Linked DNA regions of Homo sapiens. The protein of the gene in region 2 purifies or fractionates together with the protein of the main gene of each other region. This does not show direct contact. Each region holds a gene or a part of one and is shown on either strand. Other genes may lie near its edges.

Region 1 (3,812 bases), on a different chromosome or scaffold from region 2:
AACTCAATTTCCCAGCTGGCATCATTCCCCAAGACAGTGGGGTTAACAAAAGAACTAATCCACACTGCATCAAAAATAATTATCATTGGCCTAGACATCCGGTTTTTTTTTTTTTTTGAGACGGAGTCTCACTCTGTTGCCCAGGCTGGAGTGCAGTGGCGTGATTTTGGCTCACTGCAACTTCTACCTCCCAGGTTCAAGCGATTCTCTTGCCTCAGCCTCCTGAGTAGCTGAGATTACAGGCATGTGCCACCATGCCCGGATAATTTTTGTATTTTTAGTAGAGACGGGGTTTCACCGTGTTGGTCAGGCTGGTCTCGAACTCCTGACCTCGTGATCCGCCCGCCTCGGCCTCCCAAAGTGCTGGGATTACAGGTGTGAGCCACCACGCCCAGCCGGGCCTAGACATCTTGACAAGACATAAAGGTCCACCCTGAACCTAAATGTGTCTGAGCAGTCAGTGTTGTACTGTGGCTACTACTTCACTTTTGTATCATTCTATCTTATTAGCAAGCTACATTTCTAGGTTAACAGTTCTACCAAATATGAATATGAAAGTTTATTTTTAATGAGACAATGTTGCAAATTATGGTCAACCAACATCTTTTCACCAAATACTTCAAGCATAAAAAATGAGAATCTTTACAAAAATATACAGAGACACCACAAATTGGTAGCTGCCCATAACATTAAACAAACTGGACTCTTAAGAGTGGCTTCTCAACAGCATATCATTTTAATTATAACCATTGCCTGGTACAGGGAAAACTAACAAGTGTTTTTTAAGCATCATTGCAACATTGTATTCCTGATAATTTAAGTAAACCAAACTATGAGTAAATGAATGATACATGCCTAAAAATGACCATGGTTTATACTATCAGTGGCCACTGGACTTAGGACTAGTCCAAGACCTTGATCTAGATTTTGACCTAGACCTAGACTGTGATCTTGACTGAGATTTGGATCTAGGTGGTTCTTTTTTCCTTGATTCCTTTTCATATCTTGAGCCAGACTTATAATGTGTTTTGGAATCTGTTTTAGAGGTGCCTCTAGTTTTGGTGTGAGATGCAGACCTAGAACGTGATTTAGCCTTCATTTCTTTCTTGGGCTGGGACTTGGACCGTGATCTTGAATTGGATTTAGATCTTGAAAAAGATCGATTTCGGTGTTTGAATCTTTCAAAACAGAGGAGAGATATAATTAGAGTAAAAATTAGATTCTATATTAATCAAATTTGTTATTTTTAGAGCAAAAGTTCACTCTGAAATTAAAAAATACATGAGTCTTTTTCAAAGCAAAGTTATTTACCTATCATTGTCGGAATGGCTTCTGCTACGCCGTGGTCTTCCAGTCGGTCTACTGCTAAAAAGCATATCAGAAAAAGCAGTGACAAATATCTATTCATAGAGGCAAAGTTTCTAATTAAAAGCAAACCATAAAACTTTTAAAATAAAATGCTACAGTATTTTTTGTCTCAATGAAACATTCAATGTATATAATTAAAAGTATACAAAATAGTAAAAAAAAATTAAATGCTAACAAATACATTTTTTAAACAGATCACTGTGCTACACAGCACACTTACTTTCTAGGACTATACGATCTTCTATAGTTGTAATCAAAAGACCGACTTCTTGATCTCCTCCTTTCATAACTTCGGCTTCTAGAACGTCTGTATCTGTCATAATCATCATAGCGTGAAGAACTGTACACATTCCTCCCTTCCTTGGCTTTCATCTGATTTGGTGCTAGGAAATACAAAGAACAGAAATATTTAAAAATATTAAAAACAGTATTAAAGCCCTCAATAAATAGGGAAAAAAATCCCTGCATCCCCTCTTATATCCCAAAGAGAGTATGTATGACCCGGGTGGTGGCTCACACCTGTGATCCCACTACTTTGGGAGGTTGAGGTGGGAGGATCACTTGAGCCCAGGAGTTTGAGACCAGCCTGGGGCAACATAGCAATATGCCATTTCTACAAAAAATAATTAGCTGGGCCTAGTGGCTTGCACATGTATTCCAGCTACCCAGGAGGCTAAGGGGGGAAATCACTTGAGCTCATGAGTTGGTGGCTGCAGTAAATTGTGATCACACCACCGCACGCCAGCCTGGGGGTCAGAGACCCTGTCTCCAAAAAAAAAAAGTGTGTATGTGTTTTGGTGTCTTTTTTTTTTAATTATTTTAATTTTTGAGACCAGGGTCTTGCTCTGTTACCCAGGCTGGAATGCAGTGGCGCAATCTCAACTCACTGCAACCTCCACCCCACACCAGTTGAAGCCATTCTCCTGCCTCAGCCTCCTGAGGAGCTGAGATTACAGGCACGCGCCACCACACCCGGCTAATTTTTGTATTTTAGTAGAGACAGGGTTTCACCATATTGGCCAGGCTGGTCTCGAATTCCTGACCTCAAATAATCCACCCGCCTCGGCCTCCCGAAGTGCTAGGATTACAGGTGTGAGCCACCGCACCCAGCCTGGAGTCTTTTTTTTTTGAGACGGAGTTTTGCTCTTGTTGCCCAGGCCGGAGTGCGATGGCGCAATCTCGGCTCACCACAACCTCCGTCTCCTGAGTTCATGCGATTCTCCTGCCTCAGCCTCCCAAGTAGCTGGGATTACAGCATGCGCCACCACACCAGGCTAGTTTCGTATTTTTAGTGCAGACAGGGTTTCTCCATGTTGGTCAGGCTGGACTTGAACTCCTGACCTCAGGTGATCTGCCCCTGCCCGCCTTGACCTCCCAAAGTGCTGGGATTACAGGCTTGAGCCACCGTGCCCAGCCCTGGAGTCTGTTTTAGAGGTGTCTGTAGTTTTGGTGTGAGATGCAGATGCAGAACGTGATTTAGCCAAGGCTGGGTTGAGGTAACTGCAAATTTTCATCTTGAAAAAGGCACGTATTTATTTTCAAGAAAGTGTATTAGAAGACTGTTTTATGTTAAAAATAATACTAATATCCCCAACTATTTTCAAAGTCTTCTCACCATCTAGTTTATCAGCCAAGACCTGGTAACTGTTCTGACACTGGGAATCCATACCATAAAAGGATTTTTAAAAACTCCAAATGGAAGTGAGTGCCTTTTTGTTTTGAGATTGGGTCTTGCTGCTACCCAGGCTGGAGTGCACTTGTGCAAACACAGCTCTCTGCAACTTCAACCTCCTGGGCCCAAGTGATCCTCCTGCCTAGCGGGGACCACAGGTGTGCACTATCAAGCCTGGCTAATTTTTTATTTTATTTTTTGTGGAGATGGGGTCTCACTTTGTTGCCCAGGCTGGTCTCAAACTCCTGGGCTCAGGCAATTCTCCCGCCTAGGCCTCCCAAAGTGGTGGGATTACAGGCGTGAGCTACCACACCCACATATTTTACATTTTCAAATGGCTGAAAAAAATGACCACTGAACCATATGCTGATTTGGAATGATCCCACCACAGATTCCATTCATTAAGAACACAATTAACAAAATATTTATAGGTGGCCTATGAACAATGTGCAGTGTCAACATGCAGTAATATTACAGTTCTAAGACCCTAAGTAGAATAATAAGGCATTCCTAAATGCCTTATGTACACTTCAATTCTTATCTCATTCAATTCAATGAAGCAGATACTTTATGTATTGGAGTACATATAAAAAACACAATGCATAACCAGGAATCTATTACCCAACTCAAGAACTAGAGTTCCAATAGTTTGCATTGAGTACTCAAGAGCTCCTCCTCTCCTCAGCAGCTATTTTTTTTTTTTTTTTTGAGGCACAGTCTTGCTCTGTTGCCCAGTCTGGAGTGCAGTGGCATGATCTCGGCTCACTGCAAC
Region 2 (3,681 bases):
GTGTTTCTCTGAGTGCTGGGTTCTCAGGAATGTTTTTTGATGTCTTTTTTACCTTGAATCTCCTGAAAACATCATGGAACCCATGTTTTCTATTTAAGAAAAGGGGAAGGGAAAGGACACCGGCCTGCTGGGAACAGTGTGGAGCCAAGAAGGCCCACGGTGGGGGTGGGCATGGCTCACGCACCCCGGCTTTCTTTCCAGCACCTGGCTGAGCACGCAGACACTGTGCAGCTGGTGTCCGGCTTCGAGGCCACCATCAACAAGTTTGACAAGAACTTCTCAGCCCACCTGCTGGACCTCCTGGCCCGGCTGAGCATCTATAGCACCAGTGACTGTGAGCACGGCATGGCCAGCGTCATCTCCAGGTGGGTGGGCGCCACCCCGGCTCAGCCCTTCCTCAGCTCAGTCCAGCGCCTGCCCCTGCCCAGCACCGCCCTGGCTCAGCCCTTCCTCAGCTCAGTCCAGCACCTGCCCCTGCCCAACACCGCCCTGGCCCAGTGCTGTCCCTGCTCAGCCGTCCCCCAGCTCAGCCCAGCACCTGCCCCTGCCCAGCACTGCCCTGGCCCAGTGCTGCCCCGGCTCAGCCTTCCCCCAGCTCAGCCCAGCACCTGCCCCTGCCCAGCACCGCCCTGGCTCAGCCCTTCCTCAGCTCAGTCCAGCACCTGCCCCTGCCCAACACCGCCCTGGCCCAGTGCTGTCCCGGCTCAGCCTTCCCCCAGCTCAGCCCAGCGCCTGCCCCTGCCCAGCACCGCCCTGGCCCAGTGCTGCCCCGGCTCAGCCTTCCCCCAGCTCAGCCCAGCGCCTGCCCCGGCTCAGCCCTTCCTCAGCTCAGCCCAGCATCTGCCCCAGCCCAGCGCCACCCCAGCTCAGCACCTGTCCCTGCATCCAGGCCCCATCTCCCCTGCACCCTCCCCTGGTCCACCTGGTGTAGCCTCCTTCAGAAGGTGGGGCAGGTCTGTGTCCTGGTGCTAGTGCTGGTCATATGCCACTCCCTGAAGTCAGGCTAGCCCAGCTCTCCCTGGGGTGTGACATTCTGTGCAACTGGGCTGCCCCATTGGCACCCTGCGGCTGTGTGTGTCCTGTGGGGCTGATCAGGCCTGGGTCAGCTTCCCTCATGCTGCACTAACACCTAGCCTGGGGGAAAGGGCCAGGTGGCCAAACTGCCAGCCTGGAAGGGGTGGTGCCCTTGGGGGTGCTGTCCTTGGGAAGGTGCCTATTTGTGCTTTTGGACCACCCTGTGCCCTGTGCCCCCCACAAATGTTCTGATTTTCTGAGCAGGGATTTCTGAGGCCACCCTGCATTGAGAACCACTGCTTGGTTCTCCAAGCCCCTGACACCTCAGGCCCCATTGCTAGGCCCTGTTGGGGTGATGGGAGCCCCAACTTTCTGGGGCCAGGAGAGAAGAAACCTGTGTTTGTGCCTTTGAGCAGGACTGAACAGGACTGAAAACCTTCCTGTGGAAACATTAGTTAGGAGCGTGCCTCACCCTCACCCCTGCAGGGCCTCTTATGGTCTCTGTAGCTGAACACTTCCCCATGGTAGGAGCAGGGCTGCTCAGGACGGACCCGCAGAAGGAGTGTGTGCCCCAGCTCCACTGTCCTTCCTCACCCCTGCTGCCCAGCACGCACCCGCAGAAGGGGTGTGCACCCTAGCTGCACCGTCCTTCCACACCCCTGCTGCCCAGCATGCACCCGCAGAAGGGGTGTGCACCCCAGCTCCACTGTCCTTCCTCACAGGCTTGACTTCAATGGTTTCTACACGGAGCGCCTGGAGCGCCTGTCTGCAGAGAGGAGCCAGAAGGCCACCCCCCAAGTGCCTGTCCTGCGGGGGCCCCCGGCTCCTGCACCCAGGGTCGCAGTCACCGCACAGTGAGCCCTGGCTGTGACAGGAAGGAAGGGTGTGGGGTCAGCAGGGACTGGTGCAAATGGGTCCAGAATTTTCAAATCGAATGCTCTGTGTTCTGTCTTTGCAGTTTAAATATAAAGCAGGAATGATTGACTCAGCTCACTTTGTTTCTCAAGGCGCTGGGTTTCGTTTTATAGAAGCTGCCCAGGCAGGGTGGATGTCTCCCTGGATTTGCTAATCTGTTTGCTTTTTGAAATTACACTATCACCTTTTTGGGTGTTTTTGGCCTCAAAGTGGAAATACATGGTGTTTAAGCCAGGAGCAAGCAAAGATGCATGTGGGGTAAGATCCAGGCCTGGTGTCCACATCTTTCCGGGTGAGCTGGGGCCGGGCTTCCTGAGGTCTGTCGGAACCGGGACAAGCCTCTGGAAACGGTCAGGGAGTTGTGGAAACCCACCGGGCATCGGGTGTCGGGTTTGCTTTGGCCCCAGAGGCAGCCCCGTTCCTTCTCCTGAGGACTCACCCGCCTCCACGACCCTCCTCCTGCTGCTGCTCCAACTGGTCCAGGGCAGGAGGCCACAGACAGGGCCCTCAGGCACCCTGGGAGCCCACACCTCCCCCTCCGTGGGAGTGGGTCGAGGGGCAGGCTCTGCTGCTGGCTGGAAACCCCACCCCGCCCTATCCGGTACCGCCTTGTTACGTAGAACTTACTCAGCAGACTGACACCCAATCCCCCTCGGGCGATCATCTGCCCTGTCTTCCCACCTCCAGGGCTACAGTGGGCAGCACCGCCATCCCCAGTGTGACAGGGCCCTGGGAGCCTCAGGGCTGCCCGGCCAGGTTGGTCTGCTCTGGTTACATTCTGGCCAAGCTGCCCCTTCCTGCTGACCTGCATGTGTATTGTTGTCACCTTCAGCTCTCAGCACCTCGGCCCCCTTGGGCAGTGAGGAAGGGCCCTGGAGGCGAGGTTGGGAGAAAGGATAGCTAGAACAGGATCCTGCGGGGAACAAGGGTTGTGGGCAGCTCTCACCCGGGGCTGCCTCACTGAGAGCACCGCCGAGTGGGGGTGGGGGTGTCCAACTCTCCAGCCACAAACCGCTTCCTCCTTGTCTGCAGGCTGTGCAGGTCTGGCCTGTGAGTAAACACATTTATCAGCAACCCAAGCTGTCAGTCTCAGTGTTGTGCAAATGCCGGACTGGTGAGCAGAGGAGCCTGCTAGCTTTCCTGCCTGGCCCCGAGGCCCAGAAACCCCTGATCTTGTGTCCTGGGGTCTGGGAAGCCCTGGGCCTTGAGAAGTGGGGTTTGCAGGTGGTGATAGGAGGAGGGGAGGGAAGCCTCCAGGGCTGTGGGGTTCAGGCTCCCAGACCCCCCGGCACCTGCTGAAGAGGAGAGCTGTGTTCTGTGGGATTGGGTGGAACTTCCTCAGCGCGGGAGGAGCCTGTTCTGGCCCAAGCTGGTCCTGTCTTTTTAGGAATAAATCCCTGGTAGCTCAGCGTCGGCAGGGGCCTTGCTGTGCCTCTGATGTGGCCAGCGTGCCGCCTTTGCACTTTGCTGTTGAGTAACTTGCACCATGAGGTCAAGGAAGGGAAGTGTGATTGCCAGCTGGCCATTGTTCTATAATAACAGGGTCACCTGCATGAGCTCAGGCACAGGCCAGTATCCCCAGCCCTACCTGGGAGCCTCTCGGCAGCCTGGGGGACCTCGTCCTGTGCCACACAGGCAAGCGGACACACCCCCAGGCAGCAGAAGTCACCTGCGGCCCAGTGCCAGCCCTTGCTTTCTTGCTTTTCATGCCATTCACATTAGGGTAAGAATGGCTTTGAGACAAAATGTGAC

Evidence for each region.
Region 1: the proteins of TUBGCP2 (region 2) and SRSF10 purify together in Homo sapiens (affinity purification with mass spectrometry; one large-scale study listed by BioGRID and IntAct). This does not show direct contact.

The regions. Positions count from the first base shown.
Region 1 is NC_000001.11:23,970,262-23,974,073, forward strand, and holds part of SRSF10 (serine/arginine-rich splicing factor 10), read right to left. Parts: intron 1,752-3,812; coding exon 1,589-1,751; intron 1,366-1,588; coding exon 1,312-1,365; intron 1,179-1,311; coding exon 881-1,178; 3' UTR 1-880. UniProt on the Homo sapiens protein: Splicing factor that in its dephosphorylated form acts as a general repressor of pre-mRNA splicing. Seems to interfere with the U1 snRNP 5'-splice recognition of SNRNP70. Required for splicing repression in M-phase cells and after heat shock.
Region 2 is NC_000010.11:133,277,957-133,281,637, reverse strand, and holds the end of TUBGCP2 (gamma-tubulin complex component 2), read left to right. Parts: intron 1-201; coding exon 202-365; intron 366-1,736; coding exon 1,737-1,872; 3' UTR 1,873-3,003; downstream 3,004-3,681. UniProt on the Homo sapiens protein: Component of the gamma-tubulin ring complex (gTuRC) which mediates microtubule nucleation.